Linked DNA regions of Homo sapiens. The protein of the gene in region 1 interacts with the protein of each later gene in a pairwise test. Each region holds a gene or a part of one and is shown in the gene's direction. Other genes may lie near its edges. The genes, in order: UPK1B, TMEM91, VSIG1 and GPR161.

The links.
Region 2: the proteins of UPK1B (region 1) and TMEM91 interact in binary tests that used the Homo sapiens proteins (3 or more experiments, as listed by UniProt).
Region 3: the proteins of UPK1B (region 1) and VSIG1 interact in binary tests that used the Homo sapiens proteins (3 or more experiments, as listed by UniProt).
Region 4: the proteins of UPK1B (region 1) and GPR161 interact in binary tests that used the Homo sapiens proteins (3 or more experiments, as listed by UniProt).

What each region holds. Positions count from the first base shown.
Region 1 is NC_000003.12:119,183,236-119,190,836, forward strand, and holds part of UPK1B (uroplakin-1b), read left to right. Parts: intron 1-3,478; 5' UTR 3,479-3,506; coding exon 3,507-3,575; intron 3,576-4,539; coding exon 4,540-4,740; intron 4,741-7,009; coding exon 7,010-7,084; intron 7,085-7,601. UniProt on the Homo sapiens protein: Component of the asymmetric unit membrane (AUM); a highly specialized biomembrane elaborated by terminally differentiated urothelial cells.
Region 2 is NC_000019.10:41,371,947-41,379,896, forward strand, and holds the start of TMEM91 (transmembrane protein 91), read left to right. Parts: upstream 1-4,586; 5' UTR 4,587-4,908; intron 4,909-5,317; exon of another isoform or gene 5,318-5,377; intron 5,378-6,334; 5' UTR 6,335-6,363; coding exon 6,364-6,573; intron 6,574-7,950.
Region 3 is NC_000023.11:108,040,666-108,048,599, forward strand, and holds the start of VSIG1 (V-set and immunoglobulin domain-containing protein 1 isoform 2 precursor), read left to right. Parts: upstream 1-4,399; 5' UTR 4,400-4,465; coding exon 4,466-4,514; intron 4,515-7,934.
Region 4 is NC_000001.11:168,133,545-168,141,783, reverse strand, and holds the start of GPR161 (G-protein coupled receptor 161), read left to right. Parts: upstream 1-4,853; 5' UTR 4,854-5,045; exon of another isoform or gene 5,046-5,387; coding exon of another isoform or gene 5,388-5,527; exon of another isoform or gene 5,528-5,774; intron 5,775-6,747; exon of another isoform or gene 6,748-6,862; coding exon of another isoform or gene 6,863-6,878; intron 6,879-7,862; exon of another isoform or gene 7,863-7,908; intron 7,909-8,239. UniProt on the Homo sapiens protein: Key negative regulator of Shh signaling, which promotes the processing of GLI3 into GLI3R during neural tube development.

The sequences.
Region 1 (7,601 bases):
GGCAAATTAATCTCTCCAAGCTTCCCTTTTTTTTTGTTTTTTTTTTTTTTGGAGATGGAGTTTTGCTCTGTTGCCCAGTGCAGTGGCCCAATCATGGCTCACCACAACCTCCACCTCCCAGGTTCAAGCGATTCTCCTGACTCAGCCTCCCAAGTAGCTGGGATTACAGGCACCCGCCACCATGCTCGGCTAATTTTTGTATTTTTAGTAGAGACGGGGTTTTGCCATGTTGGCCAGGCTGGTCTCGAACTCCTCACCTCAGGTGATCTGCCCACCTCAGCCTCCCAAAGTGCTGGGATTACAGGCGTGAACCACCATGCCCGGCCCCTTTTCTTTATACAAACAATGGCAAGACAACAGCTTCTCCCCCTAGATCCTTCAGAAGCAACATAGCCCTGATTTTAGCCTGGTGAGACTCATTTTAGACCTCTGCCCTCCAGAACTGTAAGATACATTTCTGTTATTTTAAGCCACGAAGTTCGTGGTAATTTGTTTCAGCAGCAATAGGAAATGCAGACCTGAAAAACCCATCTCTCAGGTCTGTTGAGAAGATGAATATCAAATGCCTAACATAGTGCCCAGAGCATTGTAAGTGCCCAATAAATGGCAGTTTTCATCACTATTTCCTTATCTTGGAAGACAGGAGTAGCTAAATTATCATGTGCCATTGATACCAAAGGCCTAAGGGAGAAGAAGAGAATGCATAGTGAAAAAGGAGAACATTTTAGTGGCCAGAAAATTCAGAATATCTTGCCCACTGACATATCACCACCTTCCAATAACCAACCCACAGCTGGGCTGCCTCCCTGGCATTTCTGTCATGTCCTTGCCTAGGTTTCTTCAATTTATGCTTTTCTTTTTGCTCAGAGCAAGTTTCTACCTTCCTTCTTTTCTCCCACTTTTATCTGCGTTTTCCACCCTAATTGTGACTCCTGCAATTCTCCCATAGAATATTCATTTGCTCTTTCCCCTTTGTCTAAACTCTGTGTGGCAGAGTCATCTCTGGAAAAGTCTGTACGTCACGGGGCATAATTGGGTCACCCAGGCCACCTCCCTTGATCGGGGCCCCTGCAGTTCCTTTCTGGACCAATAAAGCCCCTCAGCGGTGCCTCTGTCTTTCTCCACAGCCCTCCTTGTCCCCTTGATGTGCACGGTCATTTTTCCTTTGAACCCACGCTGTAATTGCACTTTAAACTCCTTGAGGCCAGGCGCAGTGGCTCACGCCTGTAATCCCAGCACTTTAGGAGGCCAAGGCAGGAAGATCACAAGGTCAGGAGTTCGAGACCAGCCTGGCCAATATGGTGGAACCCCATCTCTACTAAAAATACAAAAAAAAAAAAAAAAGCCAGGTGTGGCGGTGGGCACCTGTAGTCCCAGCTACTAGGGAGGCTGAGGCAGGACAATAGCTTGAACCTGAGAGGCGGAGGTTGCAGTGAGCCAAGATCGTGCCACTGCACTGCAGCCTGGGCAACAGAGCAAGACTCTGTCTCAAAAAATAATAATAATAATAAAAATAAACTTCTTGAAAGAAGAAATTGTCTTATTTCACACAGTACATAATCAGTACGAGTTGATATCGGTGCTGAATTTGGCCTCTACTGATTTCTGCCCTTTCCTCTCTATGCTTCTGTTATCTGAACTCCTACGTTTCACAGTCTATTTACTTTTGTCTCTAGTTTAGATACTAACCCAACTGGTCAGGAATAATGTCTGTACATACCAGTAATGAACTTTACAATGTGACTCAACCAGCTACATGAGTAAGTTTCCCCCTTGGGGGAGTTTGTGCAGTCTAACACGCAACAATAACTGGAAAGAATGAATGAAATTTCTAAGCAGAAAGAAATGAATGGCATTTCTAAGCAGAAACTACACAGAGACGCAATGGCCCAGATTCTTCCATTTCTCCAGCAAACATGAATTGAGTACCCACTGTGTGCCAAATTCTGAGCTAAAAGTGCTCATAAATTTTAACTGAACTTGTCACAGCTACCCAGGTAAACAGATAAAGGAAAACATTTAGAGATGTCTAAACTTACTTGGAAGGTTGTTAATACTTACAGTGTAACAATGAGGTTAAAATTTAGCAAGGCTTGAGACAAATAGAAGGTTTGCCTCCCACTGCTACCCTACAAAACTAGGACTTTGACCAAATTGACTGGTTTGCTATCTTGTGGGCACCTTGCTCTTCTGTCTCTACTCCCTAACTTTTCCTTTCTCTTTACCTGGAATGTCACCCACCCCCACCTCACTCCCACACATATCCACCTCTACTCTACATATCAAACCATACACATCCTGCAAGACTTACGTCTTCCCGCCTCAGGACTCTCACAATATTTCATCTCACTACATGTAGTATAATTGTGTGGGAATGCATCTTAGTTTCCCTACTAACGCAAAAAATCCTAGAATACAATAATCTCCCTTACATATCTTTGTATGCCTCAGAATGCATATTGAACCATTTAATACATTTTTTATTTACAGCAGGAATGCATGAATTGATTAATTAAATGTTGAGAGCTGTAGATGGCTTTTCTCAAGGTGCTTCAAGTGCAGAAGCCCAAGTGATTGACCCACACACTTACCTTTGTGTTCCTTCCAGAAAATCCTCAGGGAGGTGAGAGACCCATGTTCAGCTGTGTATGGCACCAAAGTCTATACATAGTTTCTGGGAGTCACTGTGGGCTGTGGGGAAGCACGTGGACTCTGGAGTCACACACACCAAGGTCTCTAGCCTAGCTCTGCCACTTACTGGTTGTGTGACCCCAGGGAACTTAATTTACAAATTTAAGCTTTAGTTTCCTCATCTGCAAAATGGAGCCTCCTCGCCTTTCTTCTTTTGCTACCGAACTGGGTTATGAGAATTAGATGCGTGCATGCAAAGCACCTGGTAGAGTGGCACACACCTGGCAGAAGGAAGTAAATTCTAGTCCCCGTTTTCACTTACCCTCATATACAACGGGGCACTTTTTTATTTGCCAACTATTTCTTTGAAGATAATAAAAGAGTCAGAAAATGATAGTTTTTAAAAGCACCCTGCAGTCCACATGGGAACCAACCACTACCTCTGGCCATGAGTTTACCCTTTGGGTTTCCATTTGTCATGGCCAAGGGCAGTGAGGGCTATGCCAGGGACCCTCAGTGTGTTTGGCCCTACCCAATCACCATCTCAGGTCTACCCCTTGTGCATTCCACCTTGCGGGGCTCAGTCCACCACTCAGAAGGATGCATTCTGCACACTCCTTGCCTGAAAGAACTCCTGAAAGGCACTGACCAGGCTCTGGAAGGCTATATTCTTTTCATTCTTTATAAAAGTTATGTGATTACCAAGCTCAATAATCAAATGTCCTTCATCGCTAAAAGATTATATGGCTTTGGTTTGGATGCTTTGGGAACAAGGAGGCAATACGCAATGGCTTGGTTTACTCATGTTACAGAAACTGTAGCAGTTATTTGGTAATGCTTTCAACAGTGCCTTCAGCTTGTGGGAAATCCCGAAGATGGCCAAAGACAACTCAACTGTTCGTTGCTTCCAGGGCCTGCTGATTTTTGGAAATGTGATTATTGGTGTAAGTAATGATTATTTTCCAGGAAATTCTGCACTTCCTGTAATCATAATTCTAGATGAATCAAAAGTAAGAGTTTAAAGGAAAATAATGCTGTGATTACTGGCTTCCTATATTTTTGCTTCATTTTAAGAAATGTGTTAGTAAATATGCTAGCTAGAATTTAACTGTATGTCAAAAGATCATGGTTGAAAAAGTAGATATTTTCCTCCCAACTTTAAAATATAAGTATCTAAAAGGAGTCATGTCAACCATAGTCAGTGTCTAAACACTCTGACTACGAACACACTTCACTATTTCTTTTCTATGTCACCTTGGTTTGATTTCCATGGGACTCTGCTGTTAAGGTTTTTTGGGACAGATGCTTGCATCTTGTTCTTCTCATACAGAGGCCAGTACCAGGGTGTAAGAATAATACAGAGGCCATACTGTGTGGGTCTGGTGGCATAGAAGAACATTTGTTTTGGAGTCCAGAGCTCTTGGCCCAGCTCTCCCTCTGACTCCCCATATGACTCTGGCCATCACCTTTCAAGGCTGAGATTCCTCATCTATAAAATGTGGGTGTTGGCAAAGATAAGCAGCAAGGTTCCTCTCAGCTGTCATTGATAAATATGACCAGGACCAGCTCAAATATTACAACCCAGAAATGTGGGTCATGACATGGGGGCAGGGGGAGATCATTCTCATACCAGAAAGCATTGTTTGAGTGATTCATGCCCCAAGGACATTGTGGATGGTCTGAAATTGTGTGGGTCTGTTACTAAATAGACAGAATAACATGTGAAGGGATGTATGCAACCAGTTAGTAGGATGGAAGTAGTTGTTTGATTTCCTGGCAATGGGGAGTTTAGATTAGTTGCATAAAGCCTGTGCAGGAAAGGGAGCCAGTCACTCTTACCTTCCCCACCCTCCACCCCCTTTCCCAAAGCTGCACTCCTGATGGAGCCCACCTTTCATTTGCCCCCAGTGTTGCGGCATTGCCCTGACTGCGGAGTGCATCTTCTTTGTATCTGACCAACACAGCCTCTACCCACTGCTTGAAGCCACCGACAACGATGACATCTATGGGGCTGCCTGGATCGGCATATTTGTGGGCATCTGCCTCTTCTGCCTGTCTGTTCTAGGCATTGTAGGCATCATGAAGTCCAGCAGGAAAATTCTTCTGGCGGTAAGACCTCAAAATTCTCTGGAGTTGTCTCCCTGAGCCAATTGTAATGGATTCTTTCTTCTTCACTGAGCAATGCTTTGGCTTTCAGTGGGGGAGCAGGAAGTACCAGATAAGGGGTGAGGAGGGGAAGACTTTCCCTGCAGTGAAATGGTCCACATGGAGGCAAAGATGCCCTCCACTATTGCAAGCCCAGAAGGCTCCAGTACAGAGAAGCCAAAGGGGAGACACCTGGGGGTGACCTAATGAGTATTTTCCATATTGTGCCTCTACAGCTGGTGTCTGCATACACCCAGTAGGTACAGCTAGGAGCTATATAGGCCAAAGGAGAGACACAGTGAGAATTCATTCATTAGATTTTTTTCTCTTGGCAATAACTTGTTTAAAACATTTTGATATTAATTAGGCATTAATATATTAGGATATAAAATATAAAATATGCATACATTTTTAAAAGAAAGTATAAGCTTTCAAAGATTTTTGAGCTCAAGGTTGATGATTCTGTATCATAGCCTATACTCCCCACATTATCATCCAATCTGCTTTTCAGGGACCCCAGAAAACCTTGATAAGCACCACTGTAGAGTGAGCCTTCAGCTCACACCTGCCTGTGGGGGCTTTAACTCTGTACATCAAGGAGAGGCTTCTGCCCCAAACCATAGACAGCAAGACCATGCCCTGCCTTTGCAGATGAAAGCAAATTTGCAGGCAGCAGAGCTGAGAAACCTGTTTCAGACGTGGACCCCTACTGTCTGCCCTAATACTTAGGGCAGCAGTTTCACACTATTATGGAACACGCCTCCAATCCCCCACCCCTGAAATAACCCTTTTATTCAAATGCTGCAGGACCTCAGTTCCCCCTTTATAGAATGAGTCCAGCAATGTAAGGTGCTTGTTAGTTTACTCTTCCTTTTAACTAACCACTGTCCTGGTTCCAATGGATTACAGAACATTTACATTCTCTGGTTCCTTAGTGTGCGTAAGTTCCAGGGCAAAAGTACCCACTTTTGGTGGGTGGGGAAAGGAATACAGGAAAAAGGGAGAGGAGACACAGGTGTTCCTAAAGACAAATTCACTTGCATCCCAGCCTCACTTTGGGCCAGCCATGTGCATGCCTGACAACCAGGAGAACTGAGCTGGGGAGGCAAAGGGGCTAAAGGAGGAAACACCTCACTGCATACCTCCTTTCTGGAGCGTCTTTACCAGGAGCCAGCAAAGCTCTTGGCAAGGAGCAAGGCAGCAGCTAACACAGGAAAAAAATGTTCTGGGGCCTCTGAAGGTGCTCCTGCTGTTGACTGTAGCCAGAGCTTTATTCTGGGCTGAGTAGTGAGGGCAACAGAGGGTCCTGCTCGGAGAGCCTCCCATACCCAAAGAGGAGGACAGTTTTCCCTGCCTACCCTGCTGACACTGACCACAGTGCCCCTTCTCCCAAGAGTGTGTGCAAGCCTGGGGAAGGCAAAGCTGGAACTCTTGCAAACAGTCCCCATCCCAGATTCAGAGGTCATTTGCTGTTCGGATATTTTCCAGCCAGAAATAGCATCACTGTCATGTGGAGGTATCATGTGCACACGCACCCATGTGCCCATGCTCACGCACACACACCACCACTACCACACACAGCAAATGCCATTTCACTCAACTGAACCAATGTACTTTGAGTGTGGGTGCGTGTGAAAGAACACCCACAAATGCTGTGCACTTGAAGCCTGCCTCTCCTCTGATGAGACTGGATGCTTGTTAGGAAGGACCCTAGATGTTCAACATTATCCAGTTCATCTTTTTCTGAACTCCGTGATTCTAAATTTTCAGCAAATTGTAAAGAAAATTTCTCCAAAATTCCAAAATTAAAGGGGATTTATGAGGCCCTATACTGTATGTGATACACTAAGACTCTCTTGCCACTCACTGAGCATGCACATGCATGTAAATGCACACATGTAAATGAGCATGTAAATGCTCACATGTGTGTGTGCACACATACACACCAGTTCATTCTCTTGTACTTGTTTTTCCCAGTTAAAATAGAAACTCAGGAAACTGGACTGAGGAAGGTCTGTATTCAATGGCTATTTGTTCTCTGGAGAAAAGGAGAGAATTGAGCTGACTAGCACCAAGCCTCAATCCAAGCCACTGGTCAATGAGGGTTTGTTGAATAACTACATGAGTGATTACATGATTATATGATAAATTTGCTGAAAAAACATAATTATTTGGGCAAGTCGCTCTTTGACGGGTAAATGTAATTCTTTTATCTCATTTATTTCCCTTCCAGTATTTCATTCTGATGTTTATAGTATATGCCTTTGAAGTGGCATCTTGTATCACAGCAGCAACACAACAAGACTTTGTGAGTACAACCTCAAAAAGCAAAATAATATGAATTATCATTATTATAACAACCAACATGTATTAACCCCTTACTATGTGCCCAGGCAATCCAATATGCACAGTAATAATACATCTATCATTTTACTTAATCCTCATAAATCTATGAAATAGGCATTATCACTCTGGTCATTTGAGAAAGGAAAAAAAATGAGACAGAAAGGTAAAATGACTTGTCTAAAGTGACATAGTTGGCAACTGAAAGAGCAAGAATTCTGAACCCAGATGGCCTGACTCCCAGGGCCCAAGTTTGTAATCCCCTGTGGGTTTCACCACTCTGCCATGGCCATGGGCCTTCCAATGGGAGGATCTCTGTTCTACCTCAGCTAAGACGTGCTCTCAATTCTACATCTTTCTTTCTCTCCCATTCTCTGTTTTCCTAGCCTAAGCCACCCTACAGTATGTGTTCCCCTGGCCTCATAGTGATTTCTTTTAAGATGAGAGTCTCTTCTCTGCATGGGGACTTATGCCAACCTCAG
Region 2 (7,950 bases), on another chromosome or scaffold:
CTCCTGGACTCAAGTGATCCTCCCACCTCAGCCTCCCAAGTAGCTAGGACTACAGGTGTGTGCCACCGTGCTCGGCTAATTTTTTTTTAAGTTTTGGAGAGAGAGGGTGGTCTCAGTGGCTCCCGCCTGTAATCACAGCACTTTGGGAGGCTGAGGCAGTAGGGGGCGGGGGTGGGGATCACTTGAGGGTAGGAGTTCGAGACCAGCCTGGGCAACAGGGTGAAAACCTGTGTCTACTAAAAATATAAAAATTAGCTGGGCATGGTTGTGCGTGCCTGTAATCCCAGCTACTCGGAGGCTGAGGTAGGAGAATCACTTGAACCTGGGAGGCAGAATTTGCAGTGAGCTGACATTGCGCCACTGCACTCCAGTCTGGGCAACAGAGTGAGACTTCCTTTAAAAAAAAAAAGTTTTGGGAGAGATGGGGGTCTTACTGTGTTGCCCAGGCTGGCCTGGAACTCCTGGGCTCAGGCAATCCTCCTGCTTCAGCCTCTGGGATTACAGGCATGGGATTACAGTGCTGGGATTACAGGCATGAGCCACTGTACCTGGCCAGCACTTTATTTTATTGTTATTTATTATTATTACTTTGTTTTTTCATAACATTGATGTTTTGAAGGTTATAGGCGACCTCCTTTGTAGAGTGTCCCTCATTTTGGCTTTGTCTCATGTTTCTTATTATTAGATTTAAGTTATGCATTTTGGCAGGAAAACCAAAGAAATGGTATGTGTCTCCCTCTTTGCTTCAGACCAGAGGCAACTAAGGTCAATTTGTCCTGTTAATGGTGATATTAACTTGTATCATCTGGTTAACGTGATGTTTGCCAATTTTCTCCATTAATTTTTTTTTGTTATAATAAGTAATCTAGGGGAAGCTACTTTGAGACTAAATAAATATCCTGTTCTTTATCAAATCAGATTTTCACCCAATAACTTAATAGTTTCAGTCTCTGTTGACAATCCTTGCTGGAATCTCGTGATCTTTTGTTTTTGTTTTTGTTTTTGTTTTTGAGACTGGGTTTCACTTTGTTGCCCAGGCTGGACTGCAGTGGCACAATCATGGCTCACTGCAACCTCCACCTCCTGGGCTAAACCAATCCTCCTATCTCAGTTTCCCGAGTAGCTTGGACCACAGACATGCATCACCACACCCAGCTGATTTTGTTTATTTTTTGTAGAGACAAAATTTCACTTTGTTGCCCTGGCTGGTCTTGAACTTTTGGGTTTAAGTAATCCTCCCACCTTGGCCTCCCAAAGTGCTGGGATTACAGGCTTGAGCCACCGTACCCAGCTGGAATCTCATGTTTAATATTCCAGACCTGTCACAAACACTAAGAGGTGTAGCCTCTTAGACTGTACAAGGCTAACGGCAGCCAGAGAGCTCTCACTGGAAGTGAATTAATCTCTAGGATGGCCTAGAGGGATGAGGGGACCCACAGAGCTCAATGATTTGGTGAAAAACTGAGGCTGGAGGCTGATGGGAATTTATGCCCCCATCCCACACATATGTAATAAAGACCCACTTTGTGCCAGGCACTGTTTTAGGCCGTGAGGCACAGTAGTGAAAAAACGAGATCAAATCTCAGCCCTTGTTGTGCCGACACTGATGTGGGAGGATTCAAACTACAAACAAGAAAAATACATGGTATGTTTAAGGCCGGGTGCAGTGGCTCACGCCTATAATCCCAGCACTTTGGGAGGCCAAGGCGGGCAGATCACTTGAGGTCAGGAGTTTGAGACCAGCCTGGGCAACATGGTGAAACTCCGTCTCTACTAAAAGTACAAAAATTAGCTGGGCATGGTGGCAGGTTCCTATAATCCCAGCTACTTGGGAGGCTGAGGTGGGAGAATGGCTTGAACCCAGGAGATGGAGGTTGCAGTGACCTGAGATCGTGCCACTGCACTCCAGCCTTGCTGACTGGGGTTTTGCTATGTCGCCCAGGCTGGTTTCGAACTCCTAGGCTCAAGCAGTCCTCCCTCCTCGGCCTCCCAAAGGGCTGGGATTACAGGCGTGGGCCACCGCACCTGGCCTACAGTATGCTTCATAGAAATATGAAAAGAATGAGAGCAAGGTTGAGATAGAAAGTAACAGGGCATCCCTCCTGAGTAAAACAATCCTGCCCCCTCACGCTCTCGTCTACCCTCCCGTGGGTCTCCCTGCTTCTGTCGTCTGCCAGAAACTGGCTGAGCCAAGTGCACTTGCAGACGCCATCTGTTCTCCCTGGGAGTGGGGCCGGTGCCAGCGCCAGCATCTGGACTCTTGGCAAGGAGCCCTGGAGCCCTGGAGCGAGGGAACTCCGGCCCCACAAAGGCCAGGGAATCCTCCAGTCTGGTGAGACGGAGGGCTTCTGGGAAGGGAGGCCTATACAAGGCTCCATGAAGGAGGTGGAAGCTTGCAAGACGATGATAGTCTTGTAATCAGTCCGATGGAGATGGATGTAAATAATAATATTAATAAACACCATCAAATGTGTTCAGAGTGCTTTCTTTGCCAGGCTTTGGATAAATGTTGGATATCTGTTCTTTTTATTTTTTATTTTTCTATTTCCTAGGCAGCACCTAAACCAAAATAGGTTCAGAGAGGCTCCCAATGTTGGACATTTGTTGTTGCAGCAACTCTAAGTACTCTACATATGTTATCACATAAGAGGCAAGGAGCATTATCCCCATTTTGTAGGTGAAGAAATAGGGGTTCAGAGAGGTGAAGGCATTGTCTAGAGGCCACACACTCAGTGACTTAAAGAGCCTGGAAAGGGGCCAGGAATGGTGGCTCACACCTGTAATCCCAGCACTTTGGGAGGCTGAGGCGGGTGGGTCACCTGAGGTCGGGAGTTCAAGACCAGCCTGACTCATATGGAGAAACCCCATCTCTACCAAAAATACAAAATTAGCCAGGTGTGATGGCGCATTCCTGTAATCCTAACTACTCGGGAGGCTGAGGCAGGAGAATCGCTTGAACCTGGGAGGCGGAGGTTGCGGTGAGCCGAGATCACGCCATTGCCCTCCAGCCTGGGCAACAAGAGTGAAACTCCATCTCAAACAAACAAACAAAGAGCCTGGAAAGGAAACCAGGTCTATGTGGGTCCAAATGCTGACTCATGAACATCACTGTACCACGTGACAATCAGAGCATCACCCCCTACTGGACCCCACTCCTCAGCCTTCTTTCCCTAGAAACTCCTAACCCACCTGCCTCTGCTTCCTCCTCACCCATTGGCTTAGCAAGGGCCACAGGAACACAGCCCGGGGTTACAATATGCTGGGCTTGGTACCAGCTGTTTACTGTGGCCAAGTGAGCATGCAAGTGAGCCCGTTTATTTTCTTTTCTTTTTTTTTTTTTTTTTTTTTTTTTGAGACGGAGTCTTGCTGTTTCCCAGGCTGGAGTGCAGTGGCGCGATCTCGGCTCACTGCAAGCTCCGCCTCCCGGGTCCACGCCATTCTCCTGCCTCAGCCTCCCAAGTAGCTGGGACTACAAGCGCCCGCCACCAAGCCCGGCTAATTTTTTGTATTTTTAGTAGAGACAGGGTTTCACCGTGTCAGCCAGGATGGTCTGGATCTCCTGACCTCGTGATCCGCCCGCCTCGGCCTCCCAAAGTGTTGGGATTACAGGCGTGAGCCACTGCGCCCGGCCCGTGAGCCCGTTTCTTTATCTGCAAAACAGGGATTAAAAACAAGCCAACACCCCTTCAGCACTCCTCCGCAAAAAAACACCCCAAAACAAAATAGGCCAGGCGCGGTGACTCACACCTGTAATCCCACCGCTTTGGGAGGCCGAGGCTGCAGTGAACCCAGGAGTCTGAGGCTGAAGCGAGCAATGATTGCGCCACTGCCTTCCAGCCTGGGCGATCAGAGCAAGACCCCGTCTTTTAAAAAATAATAATAAAAAAAAAATCTGCCGGGCGCGGTGGCTCACGCCTGTAATCCTAACACTTTGGGAGGCTGAGGCGGGCAGATCACCTGAGGTCAGGAGTTCAAGACCAACCTGACCAACACAGCGAAATCTCATCTACTAAAAATACAAAAATTAGCTGGGCGTGGTGGCTTGCCCCTGTAATCCCAGCTACTCGGGAGGCTGAGGCAGGAGAATCGCTTGAACCCGGGAAGCGGAGGTTGCGGTGAGCCGAGATCACTCCACTGCACTCTAGCCTGGGCGACAGAGCAAGACTCCGTCTCAAAAACAAAACAAAACAAACAAAAAAACCAAAGTAAAATAGCAGCGACAACAACAACAACAACAAGAAAAACCCGGAGCTGAGAGGAAGAATGAATGCGATGATGAATGTAAAGCGTTTAACACAGGGCTTGGGTACAGTCTGCCCTCAATGAACCAATGATGTACCCCTAGGCAATTTACCTAACCTCGGCTTGCCAGTTTCCTCCCGCGTGAAACAGGACAATAAACGATTATGCCTCTTAGGGTTGTGCTGAGGAATACATGTGTATGTAAGTTTATTTGCAAAGCACTTAGAACAGGGCGCACGGTCCTTGTTGCTGTTATTATTATTGGCTATTATTGCGCAAAGGGGAAGGGAGGCGGGGCCAAGCCAGGAAGGCCCTGGAGAATCCGGGGTGCCCCCTCCTCCGGCAGAGCTTGGGCCTGGGCTCACGAGGAAGGGGCTGCAGTTCTCCAAGGATTCCCGCCTGCTCCCAGACCCCCGGGAGTCGTAGGAACCCGTTCCTGGACGCTGACGTCGGCTTTCAGGGATCCCTCGCCGGACGCCGCGGAGGGACAGAGCCTGGGAAGCCGTCGCCCCGCCCCGTCCCCGCCCCCGCGCGCAGCGGGCCCGGGGCGCTGAGACCCGCGTAGAGCAAAGCGCAAGGTCCCAGCGCCCCTTGGATCCTCGGTGGCAGGGTCCGGGCAAGTGTCATTGCGAGGGTTCAGGAAGCCCCGGCCTGTGATCGTGAGCGGTGAGTGAGGGACGTAGGTGGGTGGGGGTCACAGTCCCTTCCCTGGGTCCTGGAGTTGGGGATGAGAGGGCAAAGCTTTGGCGAGGAAATCGGCTCAGTCAAGGTTTGGAATGAGCAGGCAGGAGGCTTGGGGACCTTCCAGGGGGATCGTAGGACGAGAAGAAGAATATTCTTTCTGGTTGTGTTGCGTGTGTACGTGTATGTGTGTGCTGGGGTTGAGGGTGTTTATGGGGGCGAGGTGTGCAAAGGATTCTGGAGAGCTGGTGCATGTGTGGGAGTTGTGTGGAGTCATAGGTGTGTGGGTGGAGTAGGGCAGGGGTGCCTGGGCCTGATGAGTGGGGCAGGCATGCCAGAGGTCATGAGAATAGGAGAGAGTGCCGGGGTGCATGTGTGCGTGTGTGCACAGGTGTCTGTGGTTTGTGATGCAGTGGGGAGTAGGGTTGTGCACGGAGTCAATTGGGATAAATGTGTAAGAAGGTTGGGGACCTGAAAGGGGTGTTTTCTGGGAGCTGATGTTTTGGGGCAAATATTCAAGGAGTCCTTTGGGAGATGAATGTGTGGAGGTGGAGGCTGGGCTTGCCTAGATGGGGCTGTGTGGCAGGGGACTTCGGGGGGCAGGTCTAGGGGACAGAGGATGGGGAATGTAGACTAGAGTGCAGTTCCAGGCAGCACTGGGGGTAGGGGATGGGTGTGTGTGTGACTGGGAGGGGTGCCTGGGCCTGGATAGGTGGTCACGCGGTATGAACCTGGGATGGATATTGGGGGTGTTTGTGGGGCAGGTAAGTGTGTAAGGCATGGTGCAACAGGTGCTGCAACTTATTGGGGTAAGTGTGATGGGTATGTGGCTTTTGCCTGAGAGAAATGCCCAGAATTTGGCTGGGTGCGGTGGCTCACGCCTGTAATCCCAGCACTTTGGGAGGCCAAGGCTGGTGGATCCCCTAAGGTCAGGAGTTCGGGACCAGCCTGGTTAACACAGTGAAACCCTATCTTTACTAAAAATACAAAAAAAAAAATTAGCCGGGCATGGTGGTGGGCGCCTGTAATCCCAGCTACTCGGGAGGCTGAGGCAGAATGGTTTGAACCCGGGAGGTGGAGGCTGCAGTGTGCTGAGATCATGCCACTGCACTCTAGCGGATCTGCAGTGGTGGATCTGCCTGGGCAACAGATGGAGACTTTGTCTCAAAAAAAAAAAAAAAAAAGAGAGAGAGAGAGAAATGCCCAAAATTGAATGTCCAGACCCCTGAGTTCTCTTCATAACCTGAGGCCAATCTTTTTTTCTCTCTGGGCCTCAGCTTCTGTATCTGTAAAATGGGTCTGAGGACCACTGCACTAACTAGTCTCTGCCTGAGTCTCTCTAAAGCAAGGGGTCAGAGGTTGAGTGAAGTGAGACTTTTACAACTTGTCTTTTTCTTCCCCCTACCCCTAGGAAACCCCTCCTGGAGTTTCCCCAAAGCCATGGACAGCCCTAGTCTTCGTGAGCTTCAACAGCCTCTGCTGGAGGGCACAGAATGTGAGACCCCTGCCCAGAAGCCTGGCAGGCATGAGCTGGGGTCCCCCTTAAGAGAGATAGCCTTTGCCGAGTCCCTGAGGGGTTTGCAGTTCCTGTCACCGCCTCTTCCCTCCGTGAGCGCTGGCCTGGGGGAACCAAGGCCCCCTGATGTTGAGGTAGGAAACAGCAGGCCTTAGTGGAAGGCACGGGAGGGGGCTGGGGTGAGCCCCACTAAGGCCAGCATCTGGCAGGTTGACAGCTGTGCCGATCTGCCTTAGGCCTGGAGTCTCACTTCCCAGCTGTGTGTGGGCTTCTGAGATTTCCAGTTACGGTTCTTCTTGTTTTATGTCTCTCATCTTTGTTGCCTGGCTTTTGGCTCTGTCTTCCCTCTGATCTCAGACTCCGCTGGTTGGTGTCTTCAGAGTGCATGCACCTCTGGCTTTTGTCCACCCTGCTGTCTCCCTCTTTGTGTGTGTGTGTGAGAGAGAGAGAGAGAGAGAGAGAGAGAGACAGGGTCTCGCTCTGTTGCCCAGGCTGGAGTGCAGTGGAGCGATCATAGTTTACTGCAACCTTGACCTCCCGGGCTTAAGCAATCCTCCCACCTCAGCCTCCTGAGTAGCTGGGACCACAGGCATGTGCCACCATGCCTGGCTAATTTTTTGGTGTTTTTTGTAGAGAAGAGGTTTTGTCATGTTGCCCAGGCTGGTCTCAAACTCCTGAGCTCAAGCAATCTGCCTGTCTTGGCCTCCCAAAGTGCTAGGATTAAAGGTGTGAGCCACCATGCCCAGCCTTCCTTTTTTTTTTTTTTTTTTTTTTTTAAGTTACTGTTGTCACTTTTTATAATTTCTCATTCCAGGCCAGGCACAGTGGCTCACACTGGTAATCCCAGCACTTTGAGAAGGCGAGGCAGGAGGACTGCCTCGCCCAGGAGTTCTAGGCTAGCCTGGGCAACTTAGTGAGACTCCATCTTTATTTTTATTTAATTTTTCATTTTGTCCTCCGAAAATTAGAAAGACCCCATCTTAAAAAAAAAAAAAAAAATTAGCCAGGTGTGATGGCGTGTTCCTGTAGTACCAGCTACTTGGGAGGCTGAGGTGGGAGGATCGCTTGAGCCCAGGCTGCAATGAGCTGTGATCATACCACCTTACTCCAGCCTGGACAACAGAGCAAGACAGACAGAAAGAAAGAAAAAGAGAGGGAGAGGGGGGAGAGAGAGAGAGAGAGAAAGAGAGAGGGAGGGAGGGAGGAAGGAAAGAAAGAAAAGAGAGAGAGAAAGAGAGAAAGAAGGAAGGAAGAAAGAAGGAATGAAGGAAACAAGGAAAGGAAGGAGGGAAGGAAGGAAGGAGAAAGCAGAAAGAAAGGAAGGCAGGCAGGCAACAATCATGATGAACTCTTACGGTTTCTGTTGGTCAGGAATTTGGGACTTAGTTGCATGGTTCTGCCTCTGGATCTTTCTTGAGGTTGCATTCAGCTGGTGGGTGGAACTAGAACAGTCAGGGGCTGGCTGGGCACTTTTCTCTCTCTTCATGGTGTCTTAGGGCTTCCTTTTTTTT
Region 3 (7,934 bases), on another chromosome or scaffold:
AATAAGAGAATGATTAAATAAATTGAGGTACATTCATATCATGAAATACCATGCAGCCTTAACATGGACAAGGTTGATCTATAGATGCAGCTGGACCTAGTGACAGAAAGAGAGAATAAAAATACTTTTTTTAAGGGAGAAAAGCAAATTATAGAACAAAATGTACAGTATTATCATCTTTATGTTTTAAAAAACCTCGTGTGTGTGTGTGTGTTTGTGCATGTGTACATGCACAGAAAAAGGTCTGAGAAAAATGCTAAACTCCTGTTCCATGTGAGCCTGGGAAAGGGATTACATGTGTGAGTGAATGAATGGGACTTTTTTTCCTCTGTATCCTTGTTTGTCCTTTGAAAACCATTTACTATCAAAATGTATTACTTTTGTAATTTTTAAGTTAAAAATGAGGGATAAATCAGATATCACATATTTCTGAAAGTTCCCAAGGAAGAATACTGGGGGCAGTAGCATATTTGTTACATTACAATCACACCGTGCCATTGTGTGGTGTGATAGGAACAGCTTCTAATGCGTGCTATGGTGACCTTGGGAAAAGCACAGCACTTTTGAGCCTCAGTTTTCTTATATAGAAAATGTAGGTATACCTGACTTATTTGTTGTATTGGAAAGCTACATGTTCATTGAACCATTGTCAATAATATTGAAAAACTGGAAACCATCTAAGAATTTACCAATAAGAGAATGATTAAATAAATTGAGGTACATTCATATCATGAAATACCATGCAGCCTTAACATGGACAAGGTTGATCTATAGATGCAGTTGGACCCAGTGACAGAAAGAGAGAATAAAAATACCTTTTTTAAGGGAGAAAAGCAAATTATAGAACAAAATGTACAGTATTATCATCTTTATGTTTTAAAAAACCTCGTGTGTGTGTGTGTGTGTGTGTGTGTGTGTGTTTGTGCATGTGTACATGCATAGAAAAAGGTCTGAGAAAAATGCTAAACTCCTGTTCCATGTGAGCCTGGGAAAGGGATTACATGTGTGAGTGAATGAATGGGACTTTTTTTCCTCTGTATCCTTGTTTGTCCTTTGAAAACCATTTACTATCAAAATGTATTACTTTTGTAATTTTTAAGTTAAAAATGAGGGATAAATCAGATATCACATATTTCTGAAAGTTCCCAAGGAAGAATACTGGGGGCAGTAGCATATTTGTTACATTACAATCACACCGTGCCATTGTGTGGTGTGATAGGAACAGCTTCTAATGCGTGCTATGGTGACCTTGGGAAAAGCACAGCACTTTTGAGCCTCAGTTTTCTTATATAGAAAATGTAGGTATACCTGATTTATTTGTTGTATTGGAAAGCTACAAAGATAAAATGGAAAATTAGTTTAAAAATTATAAAGCTCTATAAAACTGCAAAGGATATTTAATATTTCGTGTCCTAGTTAATGACCCACTTTTTAAGCAATAGTTAATAACATCAAAATCCAGGTCCAAGCAGAGAGTTTAAATTCTCTTTTAGAGTTTGTTATAACAGAATTCTTCCTGTCCTGGTTAGGTCTTACATAGCAGCAGTATAGATATTTTACTTAAATATTCCAGAGTGTTTTGTGTTTGCACAACAGATTTTGGTGCAGATGGGTTTGGGCAATATCCTTAAATCATACCCTCTGCTGCACTCATCTTAGGGCCAACCAACTCAGACATACTGAATTAATTAGCAAGCTCTTACTTAGCACCTACTTTGTGCCTAGTAATCCCCTGTGGGTAGGTAACCAGACACCCAGGTTTGTCTGGCACTGTTACTGTTTATGCTGTCTTTCCCAGGTAATTGCTAATAGTGCCCCTTTCACTTTCAAAAGTGTCCTAGTTTTAATGATCAATGGTCACACTACTATAATCACTTATGGGGCATGGAAGGAAACACAGGAAGCTTCTGGCTTACAAATGCCAGACTTATAAATTTCGCTCCCCATCCCACGTCCTCACCACTGGAACTACCGGTATTACTTCCAGGGTGGGGGGCATTGTGAAAACTATGGGTCTTTTAGAGACTTGGTGGACTTAGAAGTCAAGGCAGAACCAAGCCTGAGAAAAGGTGGTATGGATCTCCAGAGACCCACCCTACAAGTTGTCCTCCTTTGCAAAATCTTCTCCCTCAAACTATTTCTCTTTATTGCATTGCCTAATTCTCCTGGTCAGAGATTTATGTGAGGAAAGTAAGCACTGTATTTTTAATAGCACAAACAGGTTGGAGAATGTTCAATGAAACGTTTTTTTTTCCCTTCCTAACATGGAGCTGCTGTCTGCTTATACAGGGGAAAGGGAGGGTTTCTGGGAGGAATAGAGGTGAAAAGGAAAAAGTAATTTTGGAGCATGAGATATTCTGGGGAATGAGACTCTCCCTTAGGGCAAACTAGGGACCCAGGAGCCAGGGGGCCGTGAAGGTGGGAGGCAGAAGAGAAGGTGGATGTCAGAGACATGCAATAGTTATTTGGGGGAAAATGTTGATTTGTGCACAAGTCATATCTTGGGAAATGAAAGGAACGTTCTTTCTCTGTCACCTGCTGTTCCTCCTCACCCTCCACTGCCTTATACGGCCCAGTACGCAGAATTCAAGCCAGTGCTAGATTATGTGCTACATGCCTGACAGTGAGACTCATATTATAACATTGCTTCTGCAGGAGTTCTTGCGTGCAGTCAACGAGTTTACCATTACATCTTGGGACACGCTCATTTTAAAGTTGGGAACTGCCTGTATAAGACATGGTCCCTACCCTGGAGGGATTCACAGTGACTAGATTTAAGGTAGACCAGTTAATAAATGCGAAACTACTGGAGAATAATCAATGGTCAGCTGTAGGATATTGGCTTTAAGTAAAATGGAAATTTATGCTAGGGTGGTATGTCGGTTCATTGAAATTCTCACATAGGACAGTATGACTGATCTATGCTAAGAATATACTTGGCTAGTAAGAGGAGGAAGAAGAAAACTCTAGTGATGGAAATCACCTGGAGCCAACGTTTGGCATCAGACATGAGCATGGACAGGATAGGCTGCAAGGAGGAATCAGGCATGATGGAAGCAAAATGGCTTTCTAAGAAGCAGTGGGAGATTGGAATGGCTAAAGTAAGATGGGGTCAAACATTTCCTGTAAATTAAAGACAGGAACATAAAACATATCACTTGAAATTTGTACACATTTCATGTGACTGAACACTTTGAGGCAATAAATCTTGACATACTTTTTCAGGGGCATGAGTTAATGTGGCTAAAGTTCAGATGAGGTGAGGATCAGATATTGGAAGAATGGGAATCCATATTAAGGACTTTGGATTTGATGAAAGAGTCCATTTATGGTGTTACTGGAAATATTTCACTAGGGCTGGAACATTGGCCTGCGGCTGGCACACAGGATGAAGGTGGAATAAGTCAGGGAGACCACTTAGGAAGCTGCTATGATAGGCCAAAGTGGGAAGCTGAGTACCTGGACCAAGATGGAAGCAGCAGATTGGAGAAAGAACACATCTGAAAGTCGCTGTGGAGATGGAAATGATAGGACTTAGAAATCACATGGGAAGAGCCAGAGAAAGTCCTTAGGTTTCTCCGGGTAACTTAAGCATAATAGGAACACTATTAGAAGTTCATGTTCCCATGAAAGTTCCTTACCTGTGGAGCCTCCCATGCCCTCCTGGTGAACCTCCATTTCTAAGGAAACCCTATAGCATTTACTGAGTATCTTAATTCTCCAAAAAATCAGACTTCTCCAAAGAAAGTCTTTAAGCATGTATTCACTAACTTGATTTTGCAAAATTACGTTAGCAAATACGTGCTATAAGGTTTCTAACCCGACAGACAAAAGCATGTAAATCATTTTACTGCTAGTTTTGGTGGAGGGTAGTGACAACTGCCAGTGTTTCAAAAAAGAGTAACATATCCAGAGTTTGTTCACACAGAAATGAATGCTTTTTAGCTTCATAACCCCTGTGCCCTTCCCGTGAGCCCCATCTCCCCAGGAAACGATATAGTACCAATTTACTAACTTAATTTGTAAAAGGAGGTTAGTGAATCAATTCTGTAAGACTCATGGAAATATTTGAAATTAATTAGCCTTGTCAGCTTTTATTTGCATAGGCTCTCTTCCAACCATATCCCCCAGCCCAAGTACAACGTTTTAGTAAGATTGATTTTAAACAATGAGACTTAGAGAATCTGTGTACAAGGAGCTTGAATAATTTAAATGCGTGGGTTTATTATTAACACAGTAGCAAATATATCAAGGAAACACGCCCCATGAAAAGTGTTTCAAAGAAACACAAATCTGTACTGAAAAAAGTCTATACGCAATAAGTAAGCCCAAAGAGGCATGTTTGCTTGGCGATGCCCAGCAGATAAGCCAGGCAAACCTCGGTGTGATCGAAGAAGCCAATTTGAGACTCAGCCTAGTCCAGGCAAGCTACTGGCACCTGCTGCTCTCAACTAACCTCCACACAATGGTGTTCGCATTTTGGAAGGTCTTTCTGATCCTAAGCTGCCTTGCAGGTAAGGAAAGGATCTCCAAACCACCAAATATAATTGGAAACAGAGTTTCCTTTTAAATAAAAATTCCACATTTTTACATAGAATTTTCATCTCCTGTACTTCAAATGAATTGTGATTAGTATGATGAGTTAATTTTCAGAACTCTTGCTTAGCAAACATATGCCATGCTGATATATTAGGGGTGTAAGCCCATAATATTATTGTTTTATGGAGCTTCTGAATGAAAATTTTCTCAGAAAAAAATATAGTTTATTACTTTACTTACTTTGAAAAGTGAAAAAAATGAATTTACTCAGAAACCAAACTTTGTGCTAGGGATAATTTTGTCTCTGTTTTACTTACTTTAGTGTTTCCTTTAAGCTCAGTGATTGACTTGCTCTAGCAGGCAGAGCCTGGGTTGGAGGGCCTGCCCTGGCTTACATATGGGAAGAACAGAAATTTACTGAGTACTTTACTGTCTAATATTTCTTAAGGAGTTGTGGTTTTCCAATCCTAAGACTGTATTTTGCAAAATATGTGAGTGATTTATGGTGCACAACATGGGTGATTTTAGGTATCTGAACAGAAGAAAATCAATTTTGGAATCAAAATACTGATGTTAGTTAGATCCAGGAGAGATCATTAATTCCAAAAATCCCTTGGGTAGTTTTCAAATATCAGATACATTTTGCATCTGTTCTTATAAGTTAGGTCCATAGTAAATACAATAATATTGTTTATCCAAAAACAGGATTTTCAAGCCATTAGTAATATTAGGCAGTGGTTAGAATGAGGTTTACTAGGCGTATTAATGACATAAGAAAATACCCACGATAAAATATTAAGTGAAAAAGCAGGATGCACACATATGCCTAGAATAAATTACTAGAAGGTTATATACCGAAGTGCTCATGGTGGTTGCCTCTGGGTGATGGGATTATAGATGATTTTAATTTTATTTCCCAGCTTTTCATACTTCCTGGGTTTTCTACGAAGAACATTATGCTATTTTTATAATTAGAAAAAAGTGTTACTTTTCAAAGTGATCTCATGTTTAGAAATAGTTCTTTAAATGTTCATTACTAAATGTTTAAGCATAGATGTTTTATGGAGTTAAACATCACCAGAAGGCAATACTCCATTTGTCCAGTGACCTAACTAGGCCCTAGAGCTGGAAACACATGTTCCTATTTTCCCTTCTCCCCAGGCATATTCATTTAAATGTAACTTTAGATATGGAAGTTTTGTCTCTTCTTAAAGGGTTTCCAGTCATTAGCCAGTTGGGTCGACCCCTGGGCCTTCTGCATCAGCCCTCTAAGATCATACCTGTTTCCCTATGTGAAGCCTTGCCCTGGCCCATACTAGGCACAGGGTTTGGAACGGTTGTTAAGAACAGTTTTTTTTTTTTTTAACTGTACCTAACATACAAGTAATTTTTACTGATTATAAATGTAATGCATGGTCATTGTAGAAAGGTTGGAAATATGGAAATTTAAAATAAAATAAAAATCATCTGCAATTTTACCACTCAGATTTGGGTGAATTATTATTCTTTTATTTGCAGGTGTATATATTACATTTTAAAAATTGGGTTTATTCCTTGTATACTTTTTTATTGTTTAAAAAAATTGTTTAGCATCATGTCAGGATTTTATTTTATTGTGACTTTTAGAACAAGACCAATAAATACTTCAGAGTGTGTTTCCTAAGTTACTATATAACTGATTTTGTTGGTATATAGTGTACACTATATATCTACACACATATTATCTAGTTGGCCCAAAGCAGTAGTGTCAGTACAGCAAATTGTGGTATGCTCTATTGTCGTTTGCTGTGCTTACATATGTATTGAAGTCAGAGAAAGGATCACTTTAGTAATCTACACCTGTCATTAGCAGTGTTCATCAGTTGATCTGGACAACTGATAGTGTTTCCATCAATGTGCAATTTGATGTTCTTCCTGGACTTGTTTTGGAGAGAATGTCACTTTTTGGTGTTAAGCGTGGTGCCTAACACATAGTGGATGCATAGTAAATGTTTGTTGAAAGAATGAATTACTTTCCCAAATTCCAAACATCCAGACATCATTTTCACATACATATTTAAAATTGATTTTGATATAACTAAACAGGTCAGATTTTGCTTAAATCAAAATATTTTCAATGACTTCTTAGGAATTCTTAGGTTAAATTCTAATTCAGGAAAACGAGTTTTAATCAAACTTCTGCAAAAAATTTATGCATATCATTTTAGGTATTTGAAATATGTATTAGTCACCTCTTAGAAAGATATGTTAATGTGGGTTTCATTTTCTGGAGGTATATGCTATGCATTTTAAAGGAGTAATATATTTGAACTTTGAGTTTGCACTCAAATCCAAAAAAGTGAGTGATCATTTGATTATATTATTTCCTAAGTCAAAATGAATCTATTATATATGAAGTTGCTGGAAATTAAATCACTTCAAATCTATCAGATTAAATATGAATATTTGGGGGATATTTTGCTGTGGTACATTAGGAGGATAATAATCCTTCTATAAGCAAAATGTTTGCCACCTTGTAGGCATTAAATGAATGAACAATCACCACCAAAATACAAGACATTCTCTCTCTCTCTCTCTCTCTCTCTCTATATATATATATATATACATATATATATACATATATATACACATATATATATACATATATATATACACATATATATATACACATATATATATATACACACATATATATATATACACATATATATATACACATATATATATATACACATATATATATATATATACACACACATATATATATATATATATATATATATATATATATATATATACACATATATATATTCTTTTGAGACGAAGTTAAGTCTTGTTGCCCAGGCTGGAGTGCAATGGCACGATCTCGGCCCACCGCAACTTCCGCCTTCCGGGTTCAAGTGATTCTACTGCCTCAGCCTCCTGAGTAGCTGGGATTACAGGCATGCACCACCACGCCCGGCTAATTTTGTATTTTTGGTAGAGACAGGGTTTCTCCATGTTGGTCAGGCTGGTCTTGAACTCCCAACCTCAGGCGACCCGCCCACCTCAGCCTCCCAAAGTGTTGGGATTACAGGCGTGAGCCACTGCGCCCAGCCTAAAAATATTTTTAAATGTTGATTAAGTGTGTACATCTTGGATTATTTTTCTTTAATAATAAGCACTTTTTTAATTATTATTATACTTTAAGTTTTAGGATACATGTGCACAACGTGCAGGTAAGCACTGGTTTTTAAAAGAGATTACACATATTTCAACCACATATGCATTTTTGTTTTGTTTTTAAATTTGGTCAAGTCAGAGAGGGACATTGCGTTCTTGGGTTTTGTTTAAATCAGATACTAATCTTTACTTTGCTATTTATTCACAGTCCTATTGATGTAGAGATTTTTCTG
Region 4 (8,239 bases), on another chromosome or scaffold:
CAGTGACTCGAGAAGCTAAGGTAAGGGGATTGCTTGAGGCCAGGAGTTCAAGACCAGCCCAGACAACATAATAGAGTGTTTTAAGCTGCTAAATTTGTGGTAATCATTATGCAGTGACAGAAAACTAATAAAAGTTCATATGCCACCAACTTGATATTCATCCTAGTTTTTCTTCAGTTTTTGGAGGTTTTTTCTTTTTTGAGTTAACTTTTCTCAAATTTGTAAAATATGTACTTAGTTTCAAAGCCATACAGCAAGGAACCTTCCTAGAAACCTTGCTTTCTTTTTCATTCCTTCTGTTTGTTCCTTTCCCTTATTGGAAACCTTCTTTTTATTGTTTTTGGTTTGTTTTTCCACTTTTAAGTATAAGCAAATACCTATATATTTATTTTCTTTCCTTTTCTCACATAAAAGATAACATAGGCTGGGCGTGGTGGCTCACACCTGTAATCCCAGCACTTTGGGAGGCCAAGGAGGGTGGATCATTTGAAGTCAGGAGTTCAAGACCAGCCTGGCCAACATGGTGAAACCCCGTCTCTACTAAAAATAAAAAATTAGCCTGGTGGTAGTGGGGCGCGCCTGTAATCCCAGCGACTCGGGTGACTGAGGCAGGGGAATCGCTTGAGTCTGGGAGACAGAGGTTGCAGTGATCTGAGATCGCGTCACTGTACTCCAGTCTGGGCAACAAAGTGAGACCATGTCTCAAAAAAAAAAAAAAGATAATGTATAGCAAATATTCCTGCACCTTGCTTTTTTCCACTTAACAATACGTCTTTGAGGCCACTACATGTTAGTGTATAGAGATTTTCTTCATTCATTTGTAGCACTGAATCCTAACTTATTCCTCTAATCCCCTACTGACAGACATTTGGGCATTTTTAATCTTCTGTAATTACAAATGTATCCCAAATATATAATGTTGCTTTTTATTGGCAACAGAAGATAAATGTGTACTTGAGGATTTTTTTAATAGATCAAAAGATAAATGTACTTGAGGATACTTTTTTCCCCCGATACAAAATATGTGGAATTTTTTCCAACATCAATCAATTCTCTGACACCAATTGGGTATCCAACAATTCAATTCAATTCCGACACTAACTGCCTGAGATAGTTCAGACTCCACAGATTAAGGGCTCAGTCCCATACACTGTCCCCACTTCAGGCACCACATGAATGTCCAGGGCCTCCAGTACTTCTGACCGACTTGGCTTCAGATCAGGAGTTCCCATGGCTAATAATTTCCTATAACAGCTCACAGAGCTCAAGAAAGCACTTTACTTACTTTGATTACTGGTTTATGACAAAGGATGCAATTCAAGAGAAGCCAGATGGAAGAGATGTGTAGGACAAGGCAGTGGTACGATCTCAGCTCACTGCAACCTCCACCTCCCCGGTTCAAGCAATTCTTGTGCCTCAGCCTCCCATGTAGCTAGGACTACAAGTATGTGCCACCATGCTCGGCTAATATTTGTATTTTTAGTAGAGACACGGTTTTGCCATGTTGGCCAGGCTGGTCTTGAACTCCTGACCTCAAGTGATCCACCCGCCTTGGCCTCCCAAAGTGCTTGGGTTACAGGAGTGAGCCACCGCATCCAGCCCAATAATGCTCATTTCAATATATCAGCCCTAGTGGATGACATCATGAAGTGGTCAGACACTTGAAGTTATAGACAGGATCACTGCAAGTATGACACAGATATATAAATGTAGACCAAGTCACCTAACTTGTACTAGTAAATCTGATACCATGAGTGGCATTGTTAATAGTGAGGTGATTTCCAAAATACTGAACAACTCTTGGTGAGGTTTGAGTAAATCAAGGTGCAATCTTCCTTCAATTCACATAGTACTTGCATTCCTAGACAAATTGCTGTACAACAAAACCATGCAAAAAAACCCCTCATGGATATATGTAAAATAGTTTGGTTTCAGACTTAGAAAAGTATAGACAGTTTTTACTGTCATGTGTGAAAGGAACTGTTCTTTTTGTGTAGGACTATTTCATGTACTGCAAGATGTCTGGTATCCTGGGCCGCACCCAATAAATGCCTGGGGTGTCCTCTAATCATTGTGACAAACCCAAAATGCCTTTCAAAATGTCGTATTAAGAATCACTGAGTGAGATGCTTTCTGTTCCAAGTAACAGAAATAAACCCATACTGATTCAATAAAAATATATGTATATTGATTGGCTCTTGTTTCTGATCAGTCCAGAGGCACATCAGTTTCAGGGAAGTTTCCATCTGAGGTCAAATGGTTTTACCATTCTATCAGTGGAGGCATACTGTAAACAAATAAATAGAAAAATTGATGCATATTTTATAAATTTGGACACATTTTATGTAGAAAAACAACAGAGCTGTGAAAGAGTACATAGATTAGAGAATTTCTTTTAGATTGGTCAGGGGCTGAGTGCAGTGGCTCACATCTGTAATTCCAGCACTTTGGGAGGCCAAGGTGAGAGGATAGCTTGAGCCCAGGAGTTAAAGACAAGCCTGGGCAACATAGCAAGATCCCATCAGGGAAGACTTCTCTAAGGAAGTGACATTTAAGGTGAGATGTGAAGGGCAGGAAGGGCTTGGCCTGTAAAGAGTGGAGGAAATAACATTCCATGTGGAACAAATAGCATATTTCACAGTTTTGCTTTCACCAGTTTTATGTGGACTGCTAGACTGAAATGATATTTTACATAAAATATGTTTTATATATAAATTATTCAACACACATGTGAGGTTCAGTTGGACAAGGCCTCTCATTATCTTACTTTATAAGTCTTTGTGGATGTCTCTAAAACAGAATGGTTTATTAAACTAATTTGGGAAAGGAGAATTAGTGTGTATCTTTCTCTTTTTCTAAAAAAATATAAATACATTCTTGCACAAAATCAGTCACGTTTTTCACAATTGTCACCTATACAATGATATACGGTGAAATAATTACTTTAATAATAATTTGTCTGTTTTCTCTGCATCTGATTGAATTCTGCTCATAGCTCAATATTAGCTCCAGAAGGGAAAAAAATCTTAAGAGAGCAATTGAAAATGCATTTGTTGGCAGCAATTTCCATCCCTGAATGCACAGTAAGTTCTGAGCTTATGAGCTCAGAAAAAAGAAAAATCTTTGTGATAAATAATGCATTTGATAATGAGCAGCAGGAGAAAAAAAGTGTTTTCTGTTGAAGAGTTCAAAATGAAATAGAGTAAGTATGGGAAAAGGTTGCTCAGTATGAAGGACATCTTTCGCATCATGGATGGGTATGGAGCCACAACAGCCGTAACTGTTTATTTTTTATTCTCATTCTCACCATGCCAGTCTGTGGCATATATTTTCAGACCTTTCGTGAATACCAATTTTCAAAAGGGTTTAGTTCTCAGATTCTATGTCACTGGATGATTTACTTACATGACCTCATTTAACCTTTTCAACTCTACAGATAGGAAAGTATGAGTATCCCCATTTTATATATGAATAAGCTGAGAGGAAGGTTAACTCACTCCCTCAGGCTCATAGAGCTTAGCCGACATCTGAGTCAGTGTAAATTAAATAAATATCAGGGATTTCAAAATAAGTGTCTAAAATACTATTAAGAACAGAAAGCTTTAAGCTCCTTCAAGTGTCTGGCTTGCCGCGTGACCTAGACTCTTAAGTGGAGCGTCAGCTTCCAGTTTTTGACCAAATAAAGCATTTATCCCATAGGAATATTAAGGCACCCATTTACTTTTTTCTCCCCATTATCCCATTTGTCCCCAGAGCAATGTGGGTGTTTGGCAGGTGCCAGACAGTAAATTACTGTTCTAAATTGTGCCTCAGTGGCCCAATAATATTAAGGAAGCATCTCCCACAGTGTCAATCTGTAGACAAGGGAATAATTAATGTATTTATCAAAGCAGATGGATTTCAGAGGAATGTGAATCCTGCTCTAAGCACAGCATCAGGGTTTGTTTTTTTTTTTCTGGAGTTTAGTGAACTGGGCTTTGTAACTTCTTACCTGATTATTTTGCTGCCCTGTTTGTCCTTCCTTCTTTCCCTTTTTAGCAGTTCTACTCTGTGCTTCAACTTTTCATCCCCTTATTAAGACTGCTGCATAGAAAACGTAGGAGTCTGGAGACAGGCAGGCAAAGTGGGGAGTGAGGAAGGGAAAACAAACATTCTGAGAAGGAACTGTTCCGTCCCCCGAGCTGACAGCGCCCGCTCTTTGTTTTGTGATGACTGCTCCCTGGCCTTTTGGTTCCGAGGGAGTGCAGGGCAGCAGTGTGAAGACCTGTTTACGTCCACTCCCCACTCCCCGGGGCTGGCTTCGGGACGAATTCACTGTGGTATTAACAGAGCCCGGGACAGAGCCTGGCAGAAGGCAGATGGATGCTCGTGCCCGTCGGCTGGATGAATGAAAGGTGAGCAGCAAAGGCGATACCAGGATCGTCCACGGCGGGACTGGAGGAGGAGAATGGGACTGTGCGGAGCCTGCGGGAAGAATCTGAAAGTGTCTGTGTGATGGAGAGAGACATGGAAAAGGCGACGTCCCAGCGGCTGGAACTGGGGCGGAGGAACGGGAACAGGGAAGGCCTGAGTTAGGCACCACAAAGGTTTTCAGGAGAAAAGTGGGGCGAGCCGAGAGGGTAAGGGCGAGACAAAGAGCAGCAGCCGAGGCTGTTCGTGGGAAGAAATGGGAAAGAAGCAGCCGGGAGGGCGGGCGGACGGACGCGAAGGAAGGGGCGCGGGTGGGGAGGGGCGCCGGGAGCTGGGCGGGGCGGGGCAGTGCGGGGCGCGGGGAGGCGGCTCGGGGCTCCGGGGGCCGGAGGGGCCCGGCCGGGCGTGGGGGGGGCGGGGCGGGGCGCGGGCGCCGCAAAGTTACTTGGCCTGCGCCCGCCCGGGTCCGCGTGCTGGTGGCTGGCCCGCGGGAGGAGCGAAGCGGGGCTCGGTGGGCTGAAACCCGAAACCTCCAGTCCCGGAGCGCGGCGGGGAGGAAGGAAGCGGCGGCGGCGGTGGCCGAGGCGGGGAGGCGGCTGGGCCGGGGCCTGAGCTGCCGCGGCGGCCGCTCCTCGGTGAGCACCCGGCGTGGGGCGCGGGCGCGGGCCCGGGCGGAGAGGGCGGTCCGGATGGAGCCAGGCTAAACTCATTGTGCGAGGCTGAGGGCTCAGGGCGCGGGCCGGGAAGGGTCCCCGCCCCCACGGCGCTCCCTTTCTCCCCGCGCCCCTCTCGGAGGTCAGGGCTGTCCTCCGCCCGCACTGCGCCTTGCTTTGGAGAGCTGGAGCTCTTTGTGGGAAGATGTTGGGGGCGCGCCCCTCCCCTGCGGCCTGGGGCTTCTGAGAGGCCCACCCCATTCTGCTGGGTGCAGCCCGCCCCGTTTCTCCGGCGCCGCCCGAAGCCCCTAAACAGTCCGCTGGATGGGAGGGCGTAGGTGCGTGCCCGGGACTCTGCCGATGCGGGCCGCGCCCCCTGGGGCCAAGAGACTCCACGTCCCGCTCAGGGCAAAGGGTGTGGGGAGAAGCGGTCACGCCCCTCGGCTGGAATCCGTGAGGACCAGGTGAGCAGCCTTCTCCCAGCCGGGACTCAGGGCGCTGTCTCCCCGAGCCTGGGCGGGCGGCGGGTGGCGCGCCCAGAAGTGGCCCGGCGCCGCCGGATGGGCGGCTCTGCCCCTCAGATCTGCGGGAGGGAGATTCGGCTGGTTCTTGGAAAGGGGAGAACTCGACCAGCCCTCGGCGCCTTCTGGGCCAAGCTTAACCCCCGTGCAACCTTTGGACAAAGGCATATGGGATGAGAACGTCTGTTGGGTAAGTGGGGTGTGTCCTGTGCTTCCCGGAGGTCTGCTCACCAGTAACCACATAGCTGCGCATTGGCATCGCTTTATATCACATCTTGGAGGCTATTTTTGCTTGTTATTGTACTTTCATCCCTTTTGCAAAGTGCTTTCATAGAGCAGGTCATTTGATCCACCTCCCGGTGAAGCCGTGAGGAGGTGTGTGGTTTTGGAGGGAAAGAACCTCAGTTCCTTGATTGTCCAATGGAGACACCGATAACCTCCGGTGAGCCTGTCTCAGCGTCCTAGGGGCTGGGGGAGGATGGCCATCCTTGTGGCTCCTCCGTGGAGCCAGGCGTGGATTCAGCCTGGCTTCTTCTCCCCTAGTGACCTGGACCTCCAGATGAGTTCTGGAGAGCTACTGCTTCGGGGAATAGGCGGTTTTCCCTTATAATCTATTTTACTGCAGCCACTGGGAGCAAGTGAAGAGAGGCATTTTTCAGGCCCTCAGGGCAGAAAGAGGAGGTGGGAGGGACCTCAGGTCATAGAGACAGAGGCTCTTCAACTGTAACTGGAATGCATGGCACCCATTTCTGTTACTTCTTTCAGAGCACCTCTCTTCCGGTCCTCCTCCACACCCGTCTTATTTTATACTTGTCAGGTGCTTACAAGCACTTTCATGTACACTTTTTCATTCACACAACAACCTTGTGAAGCTCTACTAGCCCATTTGATAGGTGAGGAAACTGAGGCTCAGGAGAGATGAAGCATTCTTGCCCAGCTAGGTAAGCAGCCCAGATTGAACTCAGATCTTTTGCCTTGGTAGTGCTTTTCACGTGGTTTCCTGATGGCACACAGGTGAGTTCTTTAACTCAGGGCTTCTCCCTGCCCTGTAGCTCCACTGCCATAACATCAAGAATAGAGACCCCTCATTAAGAGGCCCGCTTGACATTTTGGAACTAATCCAAGGCCGCAACGATATCCGAACCGTTCTCTTTGTGTTGCAGCCTGGTGCACTGTGCGTCCTCTGAGAGGTGAAGGAGCACTGTGTGGTCAGAGGGCTGCGAGCTCTCTGTTTGGGTTCCGAGGAAGACAGAATGGGCTGAACTGGAACTGACCTAAATGTCAGCAAGAGGAGGTACAGTTCTGTGGTGTAAACTCCACTGCCAGCAGGGACCAGTCAGGAAGCCTGAGTGCAGGAGGCGGGTGGACAGGAGGGCTGGGTGGGAGCTGTGTGCTGCTAAGCCTGTCTCCAGTAAGGGGGCAGCTGCAGGTGCGGTGGGGCTCCAGCACATGGTTGCCTGATCTTAGTTTTGGGGGAAACTGTAAATTTTTACGGAAAACAAGCTTCATATATTTTTAAAGATAGCAACTGATTCAAAACATTTTTTTTAATGTGCGTGCAGTTTAACCAAATTATGTGTGCAGGCTGCTTGCGTCTTCTGTGTGAGACCTTGGGAAGCACTGACTGTCATTCTGAGATGCAGTAAAGCATGACAGCAGGGGAGAAATGGTGTCTTCTTGCTGTTTTTCTATAAGAACAAAAAACATCAACAGAACTAGAGATAGCTATCAGTGCTACCTGGAGTTTGGAGGAGGGATTGACTTTATGACTCCATACTTCATTCATTCACCCAGTACTCGTCTATGACTCTGTTTCTACACCAAGAGAAAAGGCTTACAACTAGTTTTAATCTATTTCCTTGCACATTTTATGTGCTCAGCAGGGGAGAGGATAGCATTCATGGCAAATATGTTCAGGGAGTGCTGGAGCATAAAGGAAGGAATTTGCAGTTGGCCAGGGGTAAAGCATGAGGAGGTATATTTCAATTTTATTTTAGTTTGTGTTTGTTTTATACTCAAGCAATGGGTGAGAGAACACTGTGTTAAGAGCACTATCTGAAGTCAGACAGCCTACCTCCCAGCCCTGCCCCTTATAAACTTGTGACCTTAGGTAAATAATGTAAAGCATTCATGGAATATAGTAATTTTTCAAAACTAAGAGCTGTAAATATTTTAAAACACAGTAACATATAGGAAAATAAATTAAATTCCCCTCCACCTCTTCTCTACTCCTTCTCCCCACCTTTGAGATAACCACTGTAAATGTCTGTCTTTTTAGGTCTTTTTCAGTGTGCTCAATATGGTCACCAAGCCTGGAAACATAGGTGAATATATAGTTTATTGCTATTATATAAAACATGATAAAAAAGTATTACCTACATTTCTCACTTTAGGACCAACCTGAATATATTGAATATACTTGAAAAAATACATAAATGAAGCTGGGCATGGTGGCGCACACCTGTAGTCCCAGTTACTTGATAGGCTGAGGTGGGAGGATCGCTTGAGCCTAAGAGTTCAAGTCCAGCATGGACAACATAGTAAGATCCTGTCTGTTAAAAAAAGAAAAACATAAATCGGGTCATATAATAATGCTCTGTGGTTTACTTTTCTGATTTAACAATATGACTTAGAAGTCATTCAATAACAATAACA